Linked DNA regions of Homo sapiens. The protein of the gene in region 2 interacts with the protein of the main gene of each other region in a pairwise test. Each region holds a gene or a part of one and is shown on either strand. Other genes may lie near its edges. The genes, in order: PEX26, MSRB2, NDUFV2 and DGLUCY.

Region 1 (7,035 bases), on a different chromosome or scaffold from region 2:
AATCCTGGTACCTGTATGCCTAGATTCAAATCCCAGCTCTACCATTTAAAAGCGGTGGGGCACTGGGCACATTAGCCCCTCTGAGTCTGTTTTGCTGTCTCTAAAATGATAATATCTACCTCGCTGGCTTGAACCCAAGAGGAGGGTGCAGTGAGCCGAGATCGCACCACTGCACTCCAGCCTAGGTGACAAGAGCAAGATTCCATCTCAAAAAAAAAAAGAAGAAAAGAAAAGAAAAGAAAAAAAAAGCCAAAGGAAAATAAGAAACTAGCTATGGAGGCAGAAAAGGGGCAGTCAGTGGGGTCAGAGACAAGGCAAGAAGCCAAAGAAGGGATGGCCCTCTACCGCATTTGGAAAATAAGCCTGTAACATAAAAGTATGCATGCATTTTTCTGAGGGCAAGAACCTGTAGGTTACATTCTGAGGACCATACAAATCGGTTTTCCACCTAAGAAACTTCTCCATGTAAATTATGTTGAGGTCGTCATTAAAGAAGCTTTTTTCTCTCCAGGTGCCGTGGCTCACGCCTGTAATCCCAGCACTGTGGGAGGCGGATCACGAGGTCAGGAGATCGAGACCATCCTGGCTAACACGGTGAAACCCAGTCTCTACTAAAAATACCAAAAAATTAGCCAGGCGTGGTGGCGGGCGCCTATAGTCCCAGCCACTCGGGAGGCTGAGGCAGGAGAATGGTGTGAACCCAGGAGGCGGAGCTTGCAGTGAGCTGAGATCACGCCACTGCATTCCAGCCTGGGTGACAGAGCGAGACTCCATCTCAAAAAAAAAAGGCTTTTTTCTGAAATGACACTCTTCTACAAAAGTGCTTTCATTTCTTCACCAAGTCTCTGCTATTATCTGACACCTGTCCGTCCCACCTTGGATAGTACAAAAGTGACAAGAGGATGCTAAAAGTTTTAAAGGGGCTGTTGGAAAATACGAGCTGGGAAACATGTAGAGCTAAATATGAGCTCAGGTCAATATTAAAATTGGAAGTAGGTCACAGAATCCCAACCCCACATATTTGGATCCAGCCCTTGGTGAGTGGGCCTTGGACTGTACTTCACAATCCCATCTTCACCTGCAGTTGTCCGGCCAACATGGCCCCTTCCCGCCTGCCCTTTCCTAACCACCTCCACTCTCTCTAGTGAAGACGCTGAGCTCGCAGCCATGCTGGTTGCACACTGCCATTTTCTACAGGTTCTCAAGTGCATGGGCTGCCAAGAGGGTTGGGTGTTTACATTTATTTTTAATAGAAATGGGGTCGTACCCGGGGCATCTCTTTTCTTCATACTGCAATGTTGCTAGATACACAATCAGACACCAGAGGGTTGGGCATTCTTGCAATACCTTAACAGTGCTGAAACCTGCAGCATGGTACTAAGGAAGTTAAAGTTAGAATGTAACCACTTTATTTAAAAGGTTTATTTTTGTTTTTTTTTTTTTTAAGACGGAGTCTTGCTCTGTCCCCCAGGCTGGAGTGCAGTGGCGCCATCTAGGCTCACTGCAAGCTCCGCCTCCTGGGTTCACGCCATTCTTCTGCCTCAGCCTCCCGAGTAGCTGGGGCTACAGGCACCCGCCACCACGCCCGGCTAATTTTTTGTATTTTTTTAGTAGAGATGGGATTTCACCGTGTTAGCCAGGATGGTCTCGATCTCCTGACCTCGTGATCCACCTGCCTCGGCTTCCCAAGGTGCTGGGATTACAGGCGTGAGCCACCGCGCCCGGCCAGGTTTTTTTCTTTAATTTAAATGAAATGGGGTTGAAGTGAACATGATCTTGTTGACCATGTTCGTGAATTATAGATGCAACATGCATTGGTAGAATCGTGTGATGGTCTTTTGTGATACTTAATTTTTACATATCCCAGTCTCTGTATGTATCTGCACAAAGAAAAAACAAACTCCTGCTTTGCTCTTATTGAAGGGTTCCCAGGACTGCGTGTCTGCTCCTGAGCTCTGTTTTAAGTATGTGTATCCTTTGCTTGTATTTTGTATTAAAAAAGTAAGAAAAAGAACCCTTTATTGTTGAGCATGTTGGCATTGTCCCGTTTATTTTTTTCTCTTTTTGGGACATATGAAGCAAGTTATTCTTTTTCTGTATCTTTTTTTCTTTTGTAAACTTTTTGTTTTTTTCTTGTTTAAAATTGGCTTTATAAAAGGGCTTTTATAACCCACCCCCCCCCCAAAAAAAAGAAATGGGGTCCCACTAGGTTGCCCAGGCTAGCTTTGAACTCCTAGGCTCAAGCAATCCTCCCACTCTGGCCTCCCAAAGTGCTGGGATTATAGGTGTGAGCCACCATGCCAAGTTAAAAAAAAAAAAAAAGTCTGTGAAGCAGGAGTTGCAGGAAAAAAAAGAATTAGTTAATTAATTAGGGGGAAAAAAGCTGAAAGAAAATCAACCGTATTAATAGTAATTATTTCTGAGTGGTGGGATCACGAGTCCTGTATTTCCTTCTATGCAATTAATATTTTCTAAAATATACATGCATTGCTTTAAGACAAGAAAAATACTTGCTGTTTTATCAAGAGGCCTAGAGGTGGCAAACAATGTCTGGATCCGTACACCACCGCTGGAGGAATGCAGAGGCGGGCGGGGGCGCGACAGGCTGCTAGGCACCGTGCCCACTGTCTGTCCTGTAGCTTCCTACCAGCCCGAAACACTGAGGTTTCCAGAGGCAGCGAGGCAAAAGGGCCAGACATTTTTCTGGTTAACACTCCATGTATTCAGTTTCCAAAGGTGCTAGGCCAGGGCGGTGAGGCCGACCTTGGCCAGGCCGTGGGTGGGTTGCTTGACTAGGCCAGAGAGTAAATCAGTAGAATTCCCACAGGCCCCATCTGTGGATGTGAGGCCAAAGTCCATCGGCCCCACGGCTTTTCCGTGCTGGGAGGGAGGAAAGCAGAGGACGGCACAGGGAGGCTGGGAGGGAGGAAGGAAAGCAGACGACGGCACAGGGAGGTGCCCTACTCGCGGTTCATGTCATCACTTTCGCTTTCTGACAGTTCCTTGGGCTGCTTTAAGTGGATAGCAGAGGCCACCTTCTAGATGTAGAAAGAAACTGAACGTCCAGAGTGTGAACTGGCCTGCTTGTATCTCCCCTCGGCGGCAGTGGTGGTTGCCAGCCTGGCTTGCGTTTGCCCAAAAGTAATAGTAAAGAGCTCTGACCACTGCTGCTCACCCTAAACTTGGGGCTGCTGTACTTGTAGGCTTTGGAAAGCATGGAGGGGTTTCCACATATTAAAAAGGAAAAGGGCACCAGGTCTGTGCTCTGTGACCCCATCACGCAACGGAATGACACACAGCTATGAAGAATGAGGCTGCTCCACATATGCTGGGACTGAGAAAGGTTTTTGTGTTTTGTTTCGTTTCTGAGACCAAGTTTCACTCTTTGTTGCCCAGGTGGGAGTGCAATGGCGCGATCTCAGCTCACTGCAACCCTTGCCTCCCGGGTTCAAGTGATTCTCCTGCCTCAGCCTCCTGAGTAGCTGGGATTACAGGTACCCACCACCATGCCCGGCTCATTTTTTTTTTGTATTTTTAGTAGAGATGGGGTTTCACCATGTTGGCCATGCTGATCTCGAACTCCTGACTTCAGGTGATTCACCCACCTTGGCCTCCCAAAGTGCTGGGATTACAGGCATGCGCCACCGCGCCCAGCCGAGAATTGTTTTTTTTCTTTTTAAACGTGGCACAGTGTGTGTAGTGTATGTGACTACTATCATTTGTGTAAGAGAAAGAAAAGTTTACTATCAGAGACTGTATCTGGAGGGATAAACAGACTGGCAAGGGTTGCCTCTGGGCAAGAAACTGGGGAATAGAGAGCGGGAGTAGAAAGACTGTATTAGCTGGGTGTGGCAGCACACACTGTAGGCCCAGCTACTCCAGAGGCTGAGGGGAAGACTTGCTCAAGCCCAGGAGTTCAGGTCCAGCCTGGGCAACACAGCAAGACTAAAAAAAAACAACTTTCTTTTCCAAGAATACCCTTTTTGTAACTTTTGAATTCCGTATTTTTTAATGGTCTATGGTCTACAAACACTCATGTGCAAACACATACACGCAGAATAGGGATCACCTGCACGAAGCTATGAACTATTTCCTCATCCCTTCTAGCCCCTTCCTAGAGGCGAACCCTCCGCCCCCACCCCCAGGCACTATCTGTCCTGCTTGCACCCACCTCCACCCAGGGCTGGCCAACAATAGCCTGTTTCCTCTCCATTCCACCCCTCTCCCCCACCCTCCCATCCCACCACAGAAGAGGATTACTGGTTCCTGCTTTCCTTAGCGCCCCTAAATTTAAAGGTATCTGTTCTATGTTGCATGCTTCAGAACCCTGTAGAAACAACCAGCAAATCCACTGTTGATACGCAATTACCCCTCTTGGATGCATCTGCAACAAGCACTCCCCAGCTTCGAAGGGGCAGCAAAGAAGTTCACAATTACAAGACCATGGGGTCACGACCACAGAAGCGATATGAAACAGGTCCCGGGACACAGGGAGGGGCAGAAAGAATTCTTTGAGTAAGCCTGGAAGGTGGAGGGGCTCACCAGGCCAAGAGCAGGTGCTAGGCCTTCAGTAGGAACAGTGCGAGCCAAGGCACAGAGGCCAAGGGGAGCGAGCTGTAGCTGTGATGGTGGGCAGCTGGAAGGCCGCACATATAATCAACAGGGGACCCACATCAAAGGGGAGATCTTAGCCAAAACCAGCACATAGGGGCCTTCAATTCCATGAAGAATTTAGATGTTATCCAGTGAGCCATGGGAAGCCATTGAAGCGTTTTATCTAGGGTAGTTAAGTGGGCCCAGATTTTCATTTTAAGAAATCATTCTATAGAAGGAATCTCAAACCTCACCTGACTGCTTTTCTCCCCCCAGGGTTCTAAGCTTTACTTAAAAGCCCATATAAAAAAGTATAGATTTGCTTCCTACAGACTTGAACCATGCCCTAAGGATTTAATTCTAAGGGGCCTGTGAAGTTTACCTACTTTACTCATTTTTCTAAAGAAAAGTTGGCCGGGCGCGATGGCTCACACCTGTAATCCCAGCACTTTGGGAGGCCTAGGTGGGTGGATCACAAGTTCAGGAGATCGAGACCATCCCGGCTAACACAGTGAAACCCAGACTCTACTAAAAATACAAAAATATTAGCCAGGCGAGGTGGTGGGCACCTGTAGTCCCAGCTACTCGGGAGGCTGAGGCAGGAGAATGGCATGAACCCGGGAGGCGGAGCTTGCAGTGAGCTGAGATCACGCCACTGCACTCCAGCCTGGGTGACAGAGACTCCATCTCAAAAACAAACAAACAAACAAACAAACAAAACAAAAGAAAACTTGTTGCCTTGCAACCCCCGAAAATGTACCAAGGAAAAGCTAGCAAGCACCTTCTCTATTTTGGGCATCAACACCAAGGACACAGTGCAGGGCAGCCTGCTTGGCCTCTGGGTAGAGAAAGGCCAGCCCCTGCAGAAAGCCCTTCTTCATCCTGACAGCACAGCAGTGCTCTACGCTTCCTTGCACAGAAACTCATAAGATGCTTGTGGCTGGTGAGAAAACAACACTGAAACATTTCAGCTCCTCAAATGCTAAGGCCTCGGTGCCACCTCCCTAAGGTTTTATTGTTCACTGCCTTCAAAACCCATGTCTCCCGTCTGCCCCGCCCCCCACATCCCTTCCAGCTCACCTGATTACTCAGTTCCATTTTCAGCTCAGCAGCCTCTGAGGCTGGCCTACTTTTCAAGGCCACACGAGCAGAAAAATTTGGGCATTACACAAACAACAGAACATAACTAGGACAATGGGACACAGAAAGGGAAGAACCTGAAATGGTGTGTACCAAGGAGGCAAGGATACAGGCAGAACCTGGTGAAACAGCCAAGGGACAAGTTTGCAGGGCGGGAGGGAAGGGCTGGCGGGGAAAGAGTGGGCAGAGGCACTGAGCGTAACAGAGCAAGACTTGGCCAGGACAACCTGGAAAATTGAGCTGAAGACCAAGAGGCACCAGGCAAGATCACTTTACCCAGCGATAAGAGCTGTAAGGCTCACTTGGTTTTCAGTAGTCAACCCGGTGGTTCTGAAAACCACACCCCAGCCTGAACAGTGAGAAGGCTCCTGCAGCTTCAAGCGCATGGCAAGACCATGGGAACAGCCTATTGATACAGAATTAGATCAGCTCTGGGGAGCACAGTGCAGGCAAGAAGAGGCCCTCTCAGATCTACTCTAGCTAATTAAGGTACTGTCCTGTGGGGCATGTTTTTTTGTTTGTTTTGAGAGAGTGCGGTAGCACAATCTCAGCTCACTGCAACTTTTGCCTCCCTGGCTCAAGTGATTCTCCTGCCTCAGCCTCCCAAGTAGCTAGGACTATAGGCGTGCACCACATCTAGCTAATTTTTGTATTTTTAGTAGAGATGGGGTTTCACCATGTTGGCCAGGCAGGTTTTGAACTCCTGGCCACAAGTGATCCACCCACCTCACCCTTCCAAAGTGCTGGGATTACAGGCGTGAGTCACCATGCCCAGCAAAGAAGTATGTTTCTCAAGAAGTGAAAGGCCAAGGGTCACTTCACCAGGCTTTTTCTGAACTTCCAGCTCCATTAACATCCTGACCTGAAGAACCAACCCCTTGCCTTCACCAAGAAGATGGAATGTTTCATGGACACAGTCCCTGTCCCCAAACCCCTCCTTTTCAAGGGGCCTCTGGTCATCCGGGGCACTGTTCTGGAGGTGCTGTGCCTGCTGGTCCTGCTTTGTTTCCACATCATCTACCGCGACCAGCCGAAGTAGGGTGCAAAGGAGAGGGCACCCAGGCAGCAAGACACAGTGCACTCCGCGAGATTAGGCTGGTCCCATTTCCCCAGGGGCGCCTGTGGATGTGTCGCTCTGTCGCTCTGCTTCTGTGGCCACGGACGTGAGGAGCAGAGAGGCTGTGGTGCGCAGGGACCCTCAGTCACGGATGCGGAGCTGGTAGAGGCGAGAAAATGCAGCCTTCCGGATCCAGCGGAAGAGCTGGGCCAGCTTGTAGAGGAAGTGCAGGGAGGAAGGGGAAG
Region 2 (7,035 bases):
ACAAAACAAAACAAAGCAAAACAAAAAAGAAACCCCATGTGTTCTGAAGACAAAAGAAAGTACCCCTATAAAAGGACACCAGATTTGCCAAGAACAAGAGAGCTCTTTGTGGCATTGGGGGCAGCATCAGGGAAAGTAAAACAAAATGAGAAACCTCACCTGCTTGCAGACAACCTCTGTGCGAGCTGATCCTAACGAGGTATCCAGACGTCTCAGGATCCCTGTGTGGCTTTCATCAGAGCCAGACGTACCATGAGCCTCGGAAAACGAAGGCCACCCAGTGCCAGAGCAGTACTTTTTCTCAGAACTGTGGAAGACATAAACGATACTACAGCTGCTAATGACACTGTCATTAACATGCCAAGAGGTGCCCCGATGTGTTGTTCCAGGCAGCAGGATCTGTTCCCACTCTCCTCTGCCAGATCCCATGCCCAGTTATTCGACAGTCAGTCCCCCCGGAATCGTCCTCACTGCACCTTCACTATCGAAGCCATTGCCTCTCGAAGTGGAAGGACTTCTTGATCCTTTGATGCTAAAGACTTCTTTCTGGATATCCAACAAGGATCTAAAAACACATGGTGTTTTGTGAACTGTGTTGCATATTAGGTAACACAGATCAAACCCATGTGTTGAAAATGTCAAAAGGGGAGAAATCAAAACGAAATACTAATGCTCGGAGGAAGTCATCATCATCTTAGAGCAGCGCAGAAGTGTAAGGTCTGATGAGAAAGTCATGCTTGGCAACAGGAATTTCAGGTTATCTCAACACAGACGCCTGACCAGGGATTCAAAAGCTGCCTCTGGCCACTTCTTAGCTGTGTGAAACCACAGCTCTTGAAGCCTCAGTTTGCTCACCTAGCAAATGGGAATAATATCTACCCTACAGGGCTGTTTTGAGGATTTGAGGGGAAACTGAAGTGTGACATAAAGCTTAGCACGGTGCTGGGCACATGGTAAGTTCCCTGAATGCTTGCTGTGATGGTGATGATTAGTATTAATTAATACGCCTGGGTACCTGGCATCAATCACTGCAGTGAAACCTAACCCTCCAGAAGTCTCCCAGGGACTCATGATGCTGGCACAAGGAGAAGGACAGCAGGCAAATCCACTCACCAAAGACCCACCCTCTAAGTGCTCTCATGGATAAGCTCCCTTAAATGGCACTGGGAAAATAGACTTCAAAAATTGCTGTGGCAAGGAAATGGCTCTCTCTATCTAAGGAAGAAAGAGAAGAACTGAATGTTAGACCCAGCCAAAAAAAAAAAAAAAAAAACAAAAAACTAATCTAAGAAGAAAAAGTAGCAAAGAATCAAATCCCTAGACTATGAACACAGAAGGAAGCCTAGCTGGCAGCACAAACTCCCACAGAAACAATTGTGTAATGCAGCAATTCTCAAACATTTTGGTCTCGGCACCCCTCATGTCCCCTCTGTGTCCCCAAAATTAATAGGGATTGCTGAGAGCTTTTGTCTGTGAGTTACGTATGTCAACATTTAACAAATTATACATTATAAATGAGAATTTAAAAATATGTGTGCATTAATTTTTTTTTAATATAGGTTGAGTGCCCCTTATCTGAAATGCTTAGGACCAGAAGTGTTTCGGATTTCAGATCTTTTTGAATTTTGCATTTTACTTGATGGCTAAGCATCCTTAATCTGCAATACTCCAGTGAGCATTTCCTTTGACTAGCATGTTGGTTCTCAAAAAGTTTCGAATTTTGCTGGCGTGGTGGCCCACGCCTATAATCCCAGCTTTTTAGGAGGTGGAAGCGGGTGGATCACTTGAGCTCAGGAGTTCGAGACCAGCCTGGCCAACATGGTGAAACCCCCTCTCTACTAAAAATAGAAAAACTAGCTGGGCATGGTGGTGCATGCCTGTAGTCCTAGCTACTTGGGAGGCTGAGGCAGGAGAATAACTTGACCCCAGGAAGCAGTGGTTGCAGTGAGTGGAGATCAGTCAACAGAGCGAGACTCTGTCTCAAAAAATAAAAAAGTTTCAGATTTGGGTGCATTTCAGATTTCGAATTTTCAGAGTAGAGATGCTCAACCTGAAATAAATTTATTATATGTTAACATAACATATATTTAAGGCAAATAATTATACTTTTCAAAATGAAACAAACATTTCATGAGAAGAGTTGCACTGTTTTACAATTTTGCAAGGCTCTTTAACATCCGGCTTAAAAAAAAGACAACTGAATCTTCATATGTGCCTCTGAATTCAGTCTGTTGCTATGTTGTTTTGATTGGAGTATAAGAGGATGTGGCCTCAAGTGGTCTCAAGTGTGGTTGGAAAAGCCCCTAGAAAGGTCCCCCCCAGGAATCTCTGGGGTCCTCAGACCAGGCTTTAAGAACCACAGGTATAGCCATTAGAGGAAGGGCTTTGACTTCTGAAAGATTTGTGTGTGAATCTGGGATCTGTCTGTTACATCTGTATCACCTTGGCAAGTCATTTAATTTTTTGAAGCCTCAGCATCCTAGTCTATAGATAAGTATAAACTAAAAATAAAGTTCTAAGCCACCCACTGACTGAATAGAGCCCTTCTTGGCCAAGAGGACTCCAGAAAAACCTTTAAATCGAGTTTCCGGTCATGATGGGACAGGAGGTCAGACACACCTCATTATACCCTCTCCCTTTTGTGGTTTAGACACAACAAATGACCAGCATTAATGTTTAAATAGAGATCATAAGACTGGCAGAACAGCCTCTTTGTGGCAATAATATACCAAATTATAAACAGGACCTAAGGCCATGCCAGGCGAGGGTGAAGTCATGCACCCCTACACTTAAAGAATCAACTCTAACTGCCACAGGGGTTTTCTTCTTCTCTAGCAGCTAAACAATCACTGGCCTTGAGATAAGCAGTGTTGAAGCAATTGCAGCTCATCTACCATCAGACACTGACTAGCTGAGACCCTCTGTTCCACCAGCCGTAACTACAGCTTTGATTGCACAAGAGACTGATTTTAGTAACTTTCTCCTGATTAAAAGACCATGAAGTGGTTCTGGATGGTTTACAGAGGCTGTGCACTTGTGGGCCTTCATATCCTGAAAGACCTTTTGATGTATAGGATCTAATTATAATACATTTAAATGTTAAGTTTCTACCCCCAAATAAACATAGGTCATATGTTACATGCATGTTTGTTCAATATGTGTATGTCAGGACCATCTTCACAAATTTTCATAGCCCCTTCTGTGATCTGTTAAATAGGTATATTTAGCCAACCCTCTCAGCATAAAGCTCCTACCCCAGCTGCTCCCCCTTCCAAGTGCCTGCATCTGCTCTTGGCTGGGAGCTCGCTTCCCAGCCTGTAGGATGGCCACCTTGAAGGCTGTAACCCTTTAGAAGAAATAAAGTCTCCTTTTCTAAATTTATAGATTGTATGATTGTTTTAAGCTAACAATAGCAATGGCATTATCACCTCACTTTCTGTGTGTGTGCTTAGCATAGTACCTGACACATGGCACTTGAGTTGGTAGCTATTTTTTAATATTTTTTTATTATTAATACCAGAAATCTATGGAATGTGAGCAGTTGTGGGTCCAACTAGAAATGTCTGCATATTCAGGTCGGATTCTTTGCAACCCTCCTCCAGGGGTTCAAAAACATTCATCTGGCCACTCTGCTCAGGGAAAAACATCATTAAGTATCTTTTAATCCCAGTCTTTCCATCCTCAACATTATATATCAACTAGTGATCATTAAAGGTATTTTGATTGAGAATTATGAATACAATAAAATTTTTTAAATAAATGAAACTAAGGCTAATAAAAACTCATTAAAGCATTTTATGGGAAACAATAAACCTTTATTGATGCAATTAGCAGAATCGGGAGATTTTTACCAAGTAATATGAGAGGCCTAACATATATAAGTTAAGACTGGGAACCAAAATATTAAAGCCAATCAGAAATTCCAATATACATATTTAAGTGATTAGCAGATTGTAAGGTTTGCCCTTGAAGAACTAAAACCATTCTGAATCATATACTCTAAGGGATTTTTACTTTGTTTCGTTTTATTTGCTTTGGTTTTCCTTGATTTCTGGAAGTTCTACAGGTCCCAAACCAACAGCACAGGCACTTGGTGATAACTGACAACCCTAACCTCTTAGAAGAATTTCTATTCCTTTGAGGGAATGGGGCATACAGAAGGTTTTTAACAATATTACTTAGTTACTCATGGTACATACGACATCAGGATATTACGTAAAAGGTGAACTAGTATCAGGCTCTGTTTCCTCTTATTTTAAGAAGATTTGTGATCATGAAATATGTGATCCCACAATAGATTTTAATAAACACATTCCAAATAGGCTCATGTAGAAGAAGAAAGGGAGAAGGAGGAGAGGAAGTGGCAGTGATGGGCAATGTCACTTCATTCCGAGTTAAGGAAAGAGAGTCTGGAGTCCCTAGGAGTGTGACAACACATTCTGGAAAGTGTTCTTGACCCAGACACCTTTGATTAAAGGTGTCTGATTTGGAGAGGCAGAAGCTCTCCAAAACTGTGCACCAAACTCATTCCAACAATTATAGGATGATGAGGAGAATGACGCTAAGTCTGGTGGATGAGGCTGGGAACAAGGCTCTGGAAAGGGAACTCATGAGTTACACTGGCTGGGATCACTCTCAGAGGCTGGTTATGTCTTCTGGGAAACTTACACCTGTAATAAGGAAAGCAGGCACCAAAAGGCGATGGCACCTATGTCAACGGAGCTGCCCGTGTGGCTTAATGGAAGCTCAGCTAGTGAAGAATGTGGGCTCTGGAGTCCAAAACTGTGGGTTCATATTTTGGCTGGCTACCTGTAAGCTGCAGAACCCTGGACAAGTTATTTCATCTTCCTAGCTCTCAGTTTCCTCACGTGAAATGAGAATGATAATAACACTACGGGGAGCTGCCGAGAGGTCTGACGAAACGATGCACATGAAGAGCCTGGGCATGGCACCTGCCGCGTGCCCAGAGGGCTCCTTCATTGCTGGGGTGCTTCCCACTCTCAAGAAGAGTGCAGTGGAGCCCAAATCCCTGCACTATCACTTACTAGACAAGTGACCTGGAACAAGTTAGTTAAATTCTTTAAGCCTCAGTTTTCACATCTGTTAAGTGAGGGTCTTAATAGCTCCTTATTGGAGGGTGAGGATTGTTTGCAAAGTACTAGAGCCCAGTGTCTGGCATGTAAGTGCTCAAGAAGTTGCAGCCACTTCCCTCACATTTTCACAGTGATTTCATAATCACAGCTTTTTTTTTTTTTTTTTTTGAGATGGAGTCTCACTCTGTCACTCAGGCTGGAGTGCAGTGGCTCAATCTCAGCTCAATGAAACCTCTACCTCCTGGGTTCAAGCAATTCTCCTACCTCAGCCTCCTTAGTAGCTGGGATTACAGGCATGTGCTACCACGCCCAACTAGTTTTTGTATTTTTAGTAGAGACAGGATTTTGCTATACTGGTCAGGCTGGTCTCGAACTCCTGACCTGCAGTGATCCACCCGCCTTGGCCTCCCAAAGTGCTGGGATTACAGGCATGAGTCACCACGTTCAGCCCGTAACCACAGCTTCTGATAGTCCCAACATTGCTATGATGTCTAAGCAGCAGGATGGATATTATTAATCAACCAATCAATACGTACTTATGGAGCATCTAAGTATTAGTTTCCAAGGTGGCTGTAACAAAGTACCACAAAATGGGTGGTACTCTCTCACAATCTTGAAGATAGAAGTCCAAAGTCAAGGTGTCCACAGGGCTCTGAAGCATCTAGGGAATCCCTCCTTGCCTCTTCCTACCTTCTAAGGTAGGCAGTCTTCGGTTTGTAGCTGCGGATCACCAATCTCTGCTTCCGTTTTCACATGGCTGTCTCCTCTCTGTCTGGGCTTCTCTTCTTCTTATAAGGACAGCAGTGATTTTGGAATTAGGGCTGACCCTACTCCAATATGATCTTATCTAAACTAATTATACCTGCAGCCACCCTATTTCCAAATAAGGTCACATTCCCAGCTTACAGGGATTAAGACTTCAACATGTCTTTTTGGGAGACACAATTCATCCCATAACAACTTCCATGAGCCTTGTCCAAGAAGCATAAGATGGCCAAGGGACTCGAAAGCTAATCAAGTTTATCTCCTTAACTAAATAAAATACTTGATCCAATAGGAGAATAATTAGGTCCTAAATTGTGTGATACTGATAAATTAATAGGAATTTGAAGCAGATTAAAAAAAAACCCATGGTGTGTGCTATCAGAGAAGGTTTCAGGAGAAATCTGGGATCCAAAAATAAGTGGAATTTCAATTAGTATTAGTGGGGCTGAGCAGATCCCAGGAGGCCAGCTCAGCATGAAGGGAAGTCCCAGGCAGGAAGCAGCCAAGCTGGAGCAGGGAGCTCAAAGGAGTGAGCCCTGCATTTACTTGTTAAAAGAACTACTTAGTTTTGGTTGACCAACTTTCCCTTCACTTTCACTCCACACAAGCATTTGAAGGAATTATTTTTTCTGTACCTCTGCTTCCTACTATAGAGACTGGAGACCAGAGACAGAAAGAGAAGGAAAATGAGAGGCAAAACCAGAATATATTTCTAAAACTCCTCTTGAACAGGAAGAAGTCTCAGGAATATAGTCTGCATTTGTATGTTCTCATTAATTAGAATATATCCTCCAGAATTCCTCAGGATCAAAAGCGCATTCATGTATACAGCCCTAAGAGGGATCTATTGCTTAAGAACACATCATTACGCCCGGGTGCGCTGGCTCACGCCTGTAATCCCAGCACTTTGGGAGGCCAAAGCGGGTGGATCACCTGAGGTCAGGAGATCAAGACCATCCTGGCTAACATGGTGAAACCCCGTCTCTACTAATAATACAAAAAATTAGCCAGGCATGGTGGCACACGCCTGTAATCCCAGCTACTCAGGAGGCAGGAGAATCGCTTCAACCTGGAAGGCAGAGGTTGCAGTGAGCCGAGATCGCGCCACTGCACTCCAGCCTGGGCGACAGAGCGAGACTCCATCTCAAAAAACAAAACAAAACAACAAAAACATCAT
Region 3 (7,035 bases), on a different chromosome or scaffold from region 2:
AGGAGTTCAAGACCAGCCTGGCCAACGTGGTGAAACTGCATCTCTACCAAAAAATACAAAAATTGGCCGGGTGTGGTGGCGCACACCTGTAGTCCCAGCTACTCAGGAGGCTGAGGTGGGAGAATCGCCTGAACCTGGGAGGTGAAGGTTGCAGTGAGCTGAGATCACACCACTGCACTCCAGTCTGGGTGACAAAGTGAGACCCTGTCTCAAAACAAAAACAAACAAAAAAACCCAATGAAGTCTTTAGTTCTTTCCCTGTCTTACTATCACCACTATTTCAGACATTATTTCATGTCTGTGCATTACTGTAAGTCTTCTGGCTGATCCCTTTTTCTCAATCCAAAACATCCTGTCTAATATCACCAAACTAATTTTAAAAGTACCATCCTTCTGGCCAGGCGCAGTGGCTCACGTCTGTAAACCCAGCACTTTGGGAGGCCAAGGTGGGCAGATCACAAAGTCAGGAGTTCGAGATCAGCCTGGCCAATATGGTGAAACCCCATCTCTACTAAAAATACAAAAATTCACCGCGTGTGGTGGCGCACACCTGTAGTCCCAGCTACTTGGGAGGCTGAGACAGGAGAATTGCTTGAACCCAGGAGGTGGAGGTTGCAGTGAGCTGAGATCGAGCCACTGCATTCCTGCCTGGGCGACAGAGCGAGATTCTCTATCAAAAAAAAAAAAAAAAAAACCCTTCTGATGCTGAGTGTGGTGTAAAAGATGACCAACACCAAACACGTTCTAGTATATGAAATGTCAATTTCATCATTTCTAATAAACACATTTTCCACATTCTAGCACCTCTGAAGGTGGGATGTATCACTGTTATCTAATATTCCATAAATATCCTATGTATGGAGAGACAATATAGCAAAATGGCTAAAAGCTCAGCTCTAGAGCCTGTTTCCTCATTTATAAAAACAGAAAAATAACGGCATGTACTTCATAGGGTTCTTGAGAGCATTAAAAGATGTACTTCAGGCCGGGCACAGTAGCTCATGCCTGTAATCCCATCACTTTAGGAGGCTGAGGCGGACGGATCACCTGAGGTCATGAGTTCGAGACCAGCCTAGCCAACATGATGAGACCCCATCCCTACTAAAAATACAAAAATTAGCTGGGCGTGGTGGCACGTGCCTGTAATCCCAGCTAACCAGGAGGCTGAGGCAGGAGAATCGCTTGAACTCAGGATGCAGAGGTTGCAGTGAGCCCAGCTCGTGCCACAGCACTCCAGCCTGGGCAACAGAGTGAGACTCTGTCTCGGGGGGAAAAAAAAAAGATGTACTTCATGTAAAGTGCTTAATATTCTGCTTGGCAGATGGTAAGTACTGTATTAGTGTTGGCTATCATTAGCTATTATTATTAGAAGTACTATGTGTCAGGCACTAAGCTTTTTACACATTATTTAATTCTTAAAGTTTCCTGCAAGGTGGGTATTATTCCCAGAAATTTAAATGAGTTATGAAAACTTCTCAAGGTTAGGTCACATCACTAATTATTGGCAGAAATTATGTTAGATCCTAGGGCCAGATGATTACAAAGGCCATGACCTTATTATTAGCCACCTGACTGTTTGATGACATCAAAGCTTTAAAAGAACATAGTAGGTCTAAGAAACCAAGGAGTTTAAGGAAGAAAATCAGGCCTCCATATATACAGGCAGGCAGATAAGAAATGAAAAGCCCTGCCTCCTTGGCTTACAATGCTCCTGTTAAGAGAGAAAGATGCAAGTTATTTAATCTTTTTTTAATCCTTGCCACCCTTCTCTTCTATTCCTGCAAAAAACCTGAACGTATACACACTAGCATAACATTTGAGCAACTTAATTTCAAAGTCCGAAGTCGACCTCTTCAAAGTTGTATAAGAAGGGCTGAGATAATGTTTATAAAATAAAAGAAGCTGGCCAGACACGGTGGCTCACACCCATAATCCCAGAACTTTGGAAAGCCAAGCCCCATAGATCGCTTGAAGCCAGGGGTTTGATATCAGCGTGGGCAACATGGTGAAACCCTGTCTCTACAAAAAATACAAAAGTTAGCCAGGCATGGTGGCACATGCCTGTAGTCCCAGCCACTTGAGAGGCTGAGGTGGGAGCATCGCTTGCGCCCAAGAGGTTGAGGTTGCAGCGAGCCATGATCATGCACTGCACCCAAGCCTGGGAGACAGAGTGAGACCCTGTCTCAAAAAAGTAGTAAGTAAACAAACAATAAAGAAAGAAACAAACTAAATAGTGAAGATAAACTGATAAATCTTAGCTCTCGGTTTTTTTCAACTGGCATAAACTGTTATTCATCCCTATCAAGTTACAGGTGGCCTGAAAATGGCTTTGAAAATTGTTTTTTTGGTGTGTTTAAAGAATATCACCTATTTTACATTCATTGTAATGTCTACGTCAGACACTTTCAATAAAGGAATAAAACATTAAAAGTTCTCATTAACATCTTTACACTACTTACTGGGCCATTTCAATTTTGTTTCACTTTGAAATAAAGAGGCATTCCAGGACCAGGCTTAAAACTGGAAAAAACAACCTAGCTAGGCTGGAATGATTCAAAGAATAAGCTGAGTTCCCACCCACCCCCTTCTTTGAGTACAGTCTAGTCTTTTCTCTAGAATCTAGCTTCTCATTAGACTCTGAAATGTCTATACCTCAAGAAATTCCAATTGAGTCCAATTGAAAATCCAAGTAACTTCCTTTTTTTAAGAAGAAAAGCATGCAACCAAGTAACTTTTTTAAGTAAATAAGATCATAACCTAATATACAGCTCAAAATTAACAGTGGGTTTGAATTCTAGCTTATTTTTTTTTCAGTGTTTCAGAAGGAAAAGAAAAGATTTAAGCAGGCCAAAACAGTGACTGCCTTTTCGTTGGAGTCAAGTAAACTTGAGTGCCTCTGTGTTAAGCTCTTCTACATACTTTTTTTCGTCGATTCCTAAAAAATCTGTAGTGAGTCATTATTTCCATTTTACATTTAGAGAAACTCAGGCTCAAAGACAGTAACTTGCCCCATACCGCACAATTAGTGACAGACCTGGATTTTGAGCCCAGGCTCTTTCAATCTAAGGGCCCTGTGCTCTTTCTACCAGCCTTTCCCTTTTACTGTCACTGGCAATACCAATAGCTCAAAATGACAAAAATTAAAGTTTTATATTCTCCCCAATAGGATTCCTTAATTGTCTTTTCATGGGCTCTACTCTTTTTCTGAATTTCTTCTGTTGTTCAAACAATACTACCATCCAACGAAGCTCACTTTTCAGTTCTATCAGACATTTGCATTATAAATGCATCCAGCTAAGAGAAGTTAATAAGAGACTAAGAAGCTGTAAGACAAAACTGACAGAAGCAGTAATCTAATTAGTCAGAAAGACAAGACTAAGGTCAGGCAATTCAAAAACCCTTCTTTTTTCCTTTATTAGAGGCCAACTAAGGCAAGGAATATACCTTTTAGATGATCCCTAATATTTACAGATTAAATCCACCAAGATATCTATTTGCCTGTGCAAGAGTCACAGTGCACACATGAAACATCTCTAGTGAATCCAAAGTGGTCTGAGGTCCCTCCGTGCCTTCCTCTCACTGTTCACAACATCTGCTGACTTGTTACCTACAGCCTCCCCTATTGCCAGCTCAAGCAAGAAAACTGAAACCTCCTAAAAAAGTCAGGGTCTGCAATACATTCATTCAGACTAGGTAATTTTACATTTAAAAAAAATCCTTGAGGCTGGGTGCAGTGGCTCATGCCTGTAATCCCAGCACTTTGAGAGCCGAGGCAGGTGGATCACTGGAGGTCAGGAGTTTGAGACCAGCCTAGCCAACATGGTGAAACCCCATCTCTACTAAAAGTACAAAAATTAGCCGGGTGTGGTGGCACGCACCTTTAATCCCAGCTACTTGGGAGGCTGAGGCAGGAGAATCGCTTGAACCCGGGAGGCAGAGGTTGCAGTGAGCCAAAATCACGCCACTGAACTCCAGCCTGGGCAACAGAGTAAGACTCTGTCTCAAAAAAAAAAAAAAAAAAATTCCATGAAAAACAAAAGTTTTTCAGTGCATTTTATTTTAACAAAGTTGATGCTGGGTTAATAATTGTGAAATCTATTTCAAGGATAATCATAAATACAAATGCTTACTCTATGTCAGATCTCATGCTATAAACTACAAATCTACACTATAATCCATTTATTCCTCTCAGCAAGCCTACCAAGTAGGTATTATTATCTTGTTTTACAGGTGAGAAAATTAAGGCTCAAAGAAGGGGGAAAAACTTTCCCTAGCTCACACAGCTAAATAAATGAAATGCCACATACAGATTTTCCTGACTTCAGTACATGCCTTAACCACTAAAATTTAAGTTTTGCTGTATTTTCAGATAGAAATAGGAGGACTTTTACAAACATCCTCCAAATAAAGTTCCATCAGTAATTTACCTAAAAATGTTAATTCAGGTTAAAATGTAAGTAATTTTTACCATACTATGAGAGAATTAACAAATGTAATTTGGCTAAATTTTATATTATAGAAAAGCTGCATGAAGAGCCCAGGTATTACAGGCACTGTGCATTACAGATTAAGATAACAGCATTAATGATTCCAGCCATCTTGACCATATATTAAAGAAAACATTCTTTAGATATCTAAAATCCCACATGGATATAAGCAACAACCAATTGTTCTAAGGACAAGAATAATTTATAGAAATGAAATGCCCATCCAGTGGACCCGGGGTTCAGTCTCACCTCATGCACTTCAGTGTCTTTGTATATGTAGCTAGCTATACCTACAGCATTATCTCAACTTACACCTTCCACTCATCCATCATGACCAAGGTTAACCTCCTCCTCTTACCCCTTTAAAGCCCCTAAACCTCCATCTCCTACCCCTTTAAAGCCCCTAAACCTCCATCTCTTTTCCCTAAGCAAAGTGAAATCATTTCCCTAGTCTGCTTACACTGGTACACCTTTTATTATTAGAGTGCCTATTAAATTTAAATCTTCACCATACATAGTGATTTCCCTTAGCAACTTCAATTGTTTGAGCAACTTCAGAAAGGTAGATTAAAAACAAAACAAAACAGGACTTGCGAATAAACCCAGCCCTTACTACTGTGTGATCTTGGGCATTTATTTGTCCAGCAATCTTCATATATCTCACACATAAAATGGGGTAACACCTAGCAAAATATCCGACAGATAAAGCCACCTTCCCCCTAACCAAAATGTGTGTAAACTGTCTTTGATGTTTTGTAATGAAAGACATTTCCTACAACTGATTTATAACATGCTTCCTGAACTGATTCAAAAACTAGTGACAAGGTTCCTCATTGGAAAATCAGACTGACTGTCACTCAATAGGTTATACAGCATGGGCAACAGACCTGTAATTTATTACTCAATGTTCTGAGCACTAAGGTACTAAACAGTGCCCAAAGAGAAAGGAAAGTCAACTTTTTATTACTTTGAAATGGAAACTGAGTTCAAGTCTCTAATAAAAAGATCCGAGTCTGCAGTTTGCAATAGTGGCCTACTGAACCTCACTGCATAAACTAAAGTTTGTTCATTCTCTCTCTCCTTAAACTGCTAATTTATGGCTATGGCAGGCAGAATAATGGTCTCTCAAAGATAACCACATCCTAATCCTGGAAACCTGTGAGTATTAGTTTACACAACAAAAGAGAATTAAGGCTGCTAATCAGCCGACCTTAAAATAGGGAGATTATCCTGGATTATCTAGGTGGGCCCAATGTCATCAATCACAGGGTTCTTACCAAGAGGCAAGGAAGGATATGTGATGAATGCCAGGAGGGTCGAAGTGATGTGATATAAGAACTAGACTTGCCTTTGCTGGCTTTGGAGATGAAAGAAGGGGCCAAGAGCAGCCTCTAGAAGCTGGAAAAGCCAAGAAAAGACATTCACCTCTAGAGCCTCCAAAAAGGAATGAAGCTCGGGCTACACTTTAATTTTAGCCCACTGAGACCTGTGTCACTTTTAACCTACAGAACTGTAAGGTTAAAAATATAATGTTTTATGCCACAAAGTTTTGTGGAAATTTGTTACAGCAGGAATAAAAAACTAAATGTTTTGGGGTGTTTTTCCTACATTAACTTCTTTAGAGTCCTTTGAGTCACAATGGAGATACACTGGGACATTACAAAATCAAGTTTAAGAATCTCTAATGGAATGGGGAAAACATTTCATTGTACAAAACTTAAAATTTGGAAGGAAAAGTACCACCACACAAGATGGCATACTTCTAGTATGGCTAAGTAGACACTGTCAGGGCAAACCACTGAATAATAACTATAAACTCTGGACAAAATATTTTATAAAAACAAAAGCTTTCTGAAGGCACTGGGGAACAACCAAACAGGCAGACACAGAAGGGGAGTCTACATTCATAAAAAACCAATGAGGTTTTTGTTTTTTCTTCACATCTTTTAGCCTGAAGGCAGGCCTCAGTGAGAGTTTGGAACAACAGACATGGTAAAGTGGGAAATCCTAGAAAAGGAAGAGCCAGAAAGGGGGAGGGAGCCCTATACATTCTGTATATAAATTCTACGGAAATCTCTGGCTGAACCCTGAACCATGCATGTACATGCTGCAGACTCCAAGGAGCCTAGCTAAAAGAACGGAACCAATATTTGATCTGCTGCCCACAAGGGATATGGATAGCAACAACAAAACACACTATTTGGAGGAATAAAACAGGATCTAGAGCCTCTACAACGTATCATTCACAAAATTCAGCATACAATCCAAAATTGTTCAACATATGGGAAACAAACAAAAAAGGAAAACACATTTTCAAGAAAAAAATCAACTAAGATTACCAGACACAAACTTCAGGACAGCTATAATCATGCCTAAAGACATAAAGGAAAATATCCTCGATGAATGAAAAAATACACAATACAGATGGGTCGCTGACTTACAATTGCCTGTCTTGCAAATTCCCAACTTTACAACTGTATGAAAATGATAAGTATTCAGCATGCTCCTCGATTAAGTCCAGATAACCCCACTGTAAACTGAAATTTAC
Region 4 (4,095 bases), on a different chromosome or scaffold from region 2:
AGCCCATGCTCCGATGTTGATGACATCGAAGGCACCCCTCCCGAGGAAATCTCAACTGCACAACCCCTACTACGCCCCAATTCAGCAGGAAGCAGTTAGAGCAGTTGTCAGCCAACCTCCCCAACAGCACTTGGGTTTTCCTGTTGAGAGGGGGTACTGAGAGACAGGACTAGCTGGATTTCCTAGGCCAACTAAGAATCCCTAAGCCTAGCTGGGAAGGTGACCACATCCACCTTTAAACACAGGGCTTGCAACTTAGCTCACACCCGACCAATCAGAGAGCTCACTAAAATGCTAATTAGGCAAAAACAGGAGGTAAAGAAATAGCCAATCATCTATCGCCTGAGAGCACAGCAGGAGGGACAATGATCGGGATATAAACCCAGGCATTCGAGCCAGCAATGGCTACCCTCTTTGGGTCCCCTCCCTTTGTATGGGAGCTCAGTTTTCACTCTATTAAATCTTGCAACTGCAAAAACAAACAAACAAAAAAAAAGACTTTCACCTTTTCACTTAAAGGAAGCCCTTTATGGCCTCTTTTTGGCATATCCAAATTGCCAGCATCTCTGCTCTTGCACTTTGAGGACATTACTGAGTCACATAAGAGGTTCTTGAATATAAGCACTGCAATACCATGACAGTCGATCTGATCACCTGCTGGGTGACTGGCAGGCGGGTGGTGTAGACAGCACGGGTACCCTGGACAAAGGGAGGATTCACGTCCTAGGTAGGATGGAGCAGGATGGTGTGAGATTTCATCACGATATTCCGAAGAGTACACAATTTAAAACTTAAGAGTTGTTTATTTCTGAAATTTTTCATTTAGTATTTTCGGTCTGCAGTTGGCTATGAGTAACTGAAACCATGAGTAACAGAAACCATGGATGGGGGAGGATGACTGGAGTCTGGAGTATCCTATCCTACATGGCCTGGGAATGTTTGTTCTCATGCTCTGCCTGGCAGTTAATTGTTCACAAGTGTCCCCATAAGTAACTGTCGAGAAGATTCTCACAGGAGACCACGTGGGTTGCCTGAAGAAGCCAGAGTGAAGGAGGGTTGAAATCAACGCCTTTAGAGTCTTAGGAATAAAAGTTAAAAAGCCCCAGAGAAATGTTGTCCTTTGTCCACAGCACCTGCACTAACCCCTCCCAGAAAGTGGGCATGCAGTTTCCCAGGCCAGGCGAGTGTTCGTTGCTCACCGAAGACCAGTGTTTACTAGCAGGATTGTCGCCAGAAGCAGCTGCATTCTCCCCGGATGCAGACCTGCCCGTTGGTAGGGACTCTGCTCACACGGAACATGGACGGTTACACCTGTGCCGTGGTGACGTCCACCAGCTTCTGGATCATCTCGGCGTGGGTGTTGTGGAAGGGCAGCCCATCCACCTCCATGCCCACGATGCCCGAGACGCCACTCCGGACTTTGTGCTGCACCAAGATGCCCAGCATTTTTTCTTCCTGGAAAAAAATAGGGCAGAAATAGAAGGAGTGGAGGGGGAGGAAAAAGAAATTTCTTTTATACACATTTATAAGTGAGAAGGATCCTTTGCCTTGACATACTTGCTTTTTAAAAAAGTAAAATTTTGGTTTAAAGTACTAATACCATTGGAAAAGTCATGAAAAGTAAGTGTCCTCCATCACAGCTCATTGGCCCCCAAATCTACTCCCCAGAAACAATCACGGGAATAGTTTGGGCTGCTTCTTTTGGTAGTTACTGTTATGTAACTAAATAATATGCTTTAATGGAAACATAGTTTCTTAGTTTGATTGTCCGTTTTTAGAGATGGGGTCTTGCTATGTTGCCCAGACTGGTATTGAACTCCTGGCCTCAAGTGATTCTTCTGTCTCAGTCTCCTGACTAGCTGGGACTATAGGTGCACATCACTGTGCCCGGCCAGCCTGCATTTCCTTAACCAACACTGAAGATTCACTCCTCCTGCAGGTGCAGTGCAGGCTATTTCCTGCCAATAAGTTCCTCCCAGCCCTGGATTATCTGCCAATAGTCTTTGTGCCAAAGGCCCCCATTTCTCCTGAGACCTCTTAGCCTAATGTGGGGCATGTGTCAAATCCTGCTGCTGTTGCCTTCTAGAAATGACCAGGGTGACTGTGGGAGTGGGAGCATCTAGGTGTAGCAGAGTCACAGAGAATACAAGCCCCCATCCTGAAGCCGCAGCCCGGGGCCTAGCAGGCAGAGTGGTTTGGGGATCAGAAAGGTCTGACTTGAGTCTTTCCTGGCAGGAATTTTAACTGTTCTGTGCCTTAGTGTGCTTATCTGTAAAATGGGGAGGGTGATGATAAAAGTACTCATCATGCCTCCTTTAGAGGGTTGTTCTGAGGATTACGTACAAGCAAAGCACTTAGCAGGGTCCTTGGCACACAACAGGCATTCACAAAATGAGGTTGATTTTATTGGCAGGGCTAGGTCTTCTGGCCTTTAGCCTAGAGCTTTCTCCCTTTGCTCTCCTGCTGGTTAAAAAAAAAAAAAGTGGTTTGATCCTCCTCCATCCCCCCTCCTTCCAAAAATAAAATCCCAAAGCACCACTTGCCCAAGCCACTAATGTGTCTGTCCCTAGTGAACAGCTCAGGTTCCCCTAAGGACAGTGAGCCTTAAGTGAAGGCATAAAGCAACTCAAACACATCCTTCCCTCTTCTTCTTCTTCCTCCTCCTCCTCTTCCTTCTCCCTGTCTTCTTCCTCCTCCACAACAAAGGCAGGAGGTGAGAGGAGGGGACCTAAGGAATCTAGAATAGGACATTAGGGCGGCTATAAGAAGGCTCTCTCCCTGCTCAGGCATTTGCTCATTCATCCCACCATTGATCAAAGGTTTATTGAACACCTGCTAAGTATGTGTCAGGCCCTGAACCAGGGATACAGTGGTGAATGTGACATGGTTCCTGCCCCCATGGGGTTCACAGTCTAGATGAGTAATCAGGTAGTCATAGTACAGGATGTCACAGCACAGAGCAGGGGCACCCAACCCAGCTTATTGGCATGGTTCAGGGAACATTTTCTGGAGGCAGGGTGTTATGGACTCAATATGTACCCTCAAATTTTGTATGTTGAACCTAATCCTCAATTGTTGGAATTTGAAAGTGGGGTCTTTGGGAGGTAATAAGATTGAGATGAGGTCATGAGTGAGGGTCAGGATGTGAAGTGCTCTTATAAGAAAAAGAGAAACCAGAGCTCTCGCTCTCTCCACCACATGCGGACTCAGCAAGAAGGCGGCCATCTGTAAGCCAGGAAGAGAGTCCCCACCAGTGAATCAAAACTACTGGCACCTTGATGTTGGACTTCCCAATCTCTAGAACTGTGAGAACTAAATTTCTGTTGTTCAAGCCACCTAGTCTATAGTTGTTTTTTAAAATAGCAGCTTGAGCTACGACAAGGGGCAACTAGGATCAGAGGTGATGAAAGAATAAAAATGAGCCAGCTGAGAGCCCTGGAGGGTCACTCACTAACTTTTTCTAAGTAATAGAGAAAGCATTGGCAAATGTTAACTGCAAACTGTCTCTTCACAGCTGGCCTGAGAGCCTGCATTTCTGTTCTGCCCTGGGGGCCAAGAAGGATGTTCCTCTGTAGGAGGGAGGCCCTAAATTGTTTCCACTTTCACATGTGTCCTTTGTCCAACAGCTCCTTCTCAGGAGCTACCCACTCAGAATGGCATTTCCCGCCCTTTGTTTGGGCTTCTTCCTCTCGCTTCTCTTCTCCACTGGTCATATCCTCTCTTTATGGGGGAATGTTTCTGGGACTCCTGGGGCCATTTCCTCACAGCACACTGTTTCCCTCACCATTCTCATCCTTCTGGGCCCCAGGAAGGGCTGTGGGGTCCTCAGGGTGCACGCAATCAGCCAACAGGTTTCGAGCTGACTGGCACCCAGCCTCCAAGAGACACAGGGACCAGCTGGGCCAACAGCTACTCCCTGCAAATTTCCAAGAATCACGGAATGACCATGCCATCTTCTAAGAGGCAGAGGTGGTAACAGTGGCAGAGAATTACCAGGGAGCAGCTGGAGGGCAGGGCGCCTGAAGGCCACTGCACCAGTCCAGGCTGAGACAACAGGGCAGGAGAGGAGGAATGGAGGACCCAAGTGAGGGAGAG

What was found.
Region 1: the proteins of MSRB2 (region 2) and PEX26 interact in binary tests that used the Homo sapiens proteins (3 or more experiments, as listed by UniProt).
Region 3: the proteins of MSRB2 (region 2) and NDUFV2 interact in binary tests that used the Homo sapiens proteins (3 or more experiments, as listed by UniProt).
Region 4: the proteins of MSRB2 (region 2) and DGLUCY interact in binary tests that used the Homo sapiens proteins (3 or more experiments, as listed by UniProt).

The regions. Positions count from the first base shown.
Region 1 is NC_000022.11:18,087,972-18,095,006, reverse strand, and holds part of PEX26 (peroxisome assembly protein 26), read right to left. Parts: coding exon 6,932-7,035; 3' UTR 1-6,931. UniProt on the Homo sapiens protein: Peroxisomal docking factor that anchors PEX1 and PEX6 to peroxisome membranes. PEX26 is therefore required for the formation of the PEX1-PEX6 AAA ATPase complex, a complex that mediates the extraction of the PEX5 receptor from peroxisomal membrane.
Region 2 is NC_000010.11:23,112,576-23,119,610, reverse strand, and holds part of MSRB2 (methionine-R-sulfoxide reductase B2, mitochondrial precursor), read right to left. Parts: intron 566-7,035; coding exon of another isoform or gene 436-565; exon of another isoform or gene 308-435; coding exon 160-307; intron 1-159. UniProt on the Homo sapiens protein: Methionine-sulfoxide reductase that specifically reduces methionine (R)-sulfoxide back to methionine.
Region 3 is NC_000018.10:9,105,677-9,112,711, reverse strand, and holds part of NDUFV2 (NADH dehydrogenase [ubiquinone] flavoprotein 2, mitochondrial precursor), read right to left. Parts: intron 675-7,035; exon of another isoform or gene 1-674.
Region 4 is NC_000014.9:91,222,044-91,226,138, reverse strand, and holds the end of DGLUCY (D-glutamate cyclase, mitochondrial isoform b precursor), read right to left. Parts: intron 1,456-4,095; coding exon 1,306-1,455; 3' UTR 507-1,305; downstream 1-506. UniProt on the Homo sapiens protein: D-glutamate cyclase that converts D-glutamate to 5-oxo-D-proline.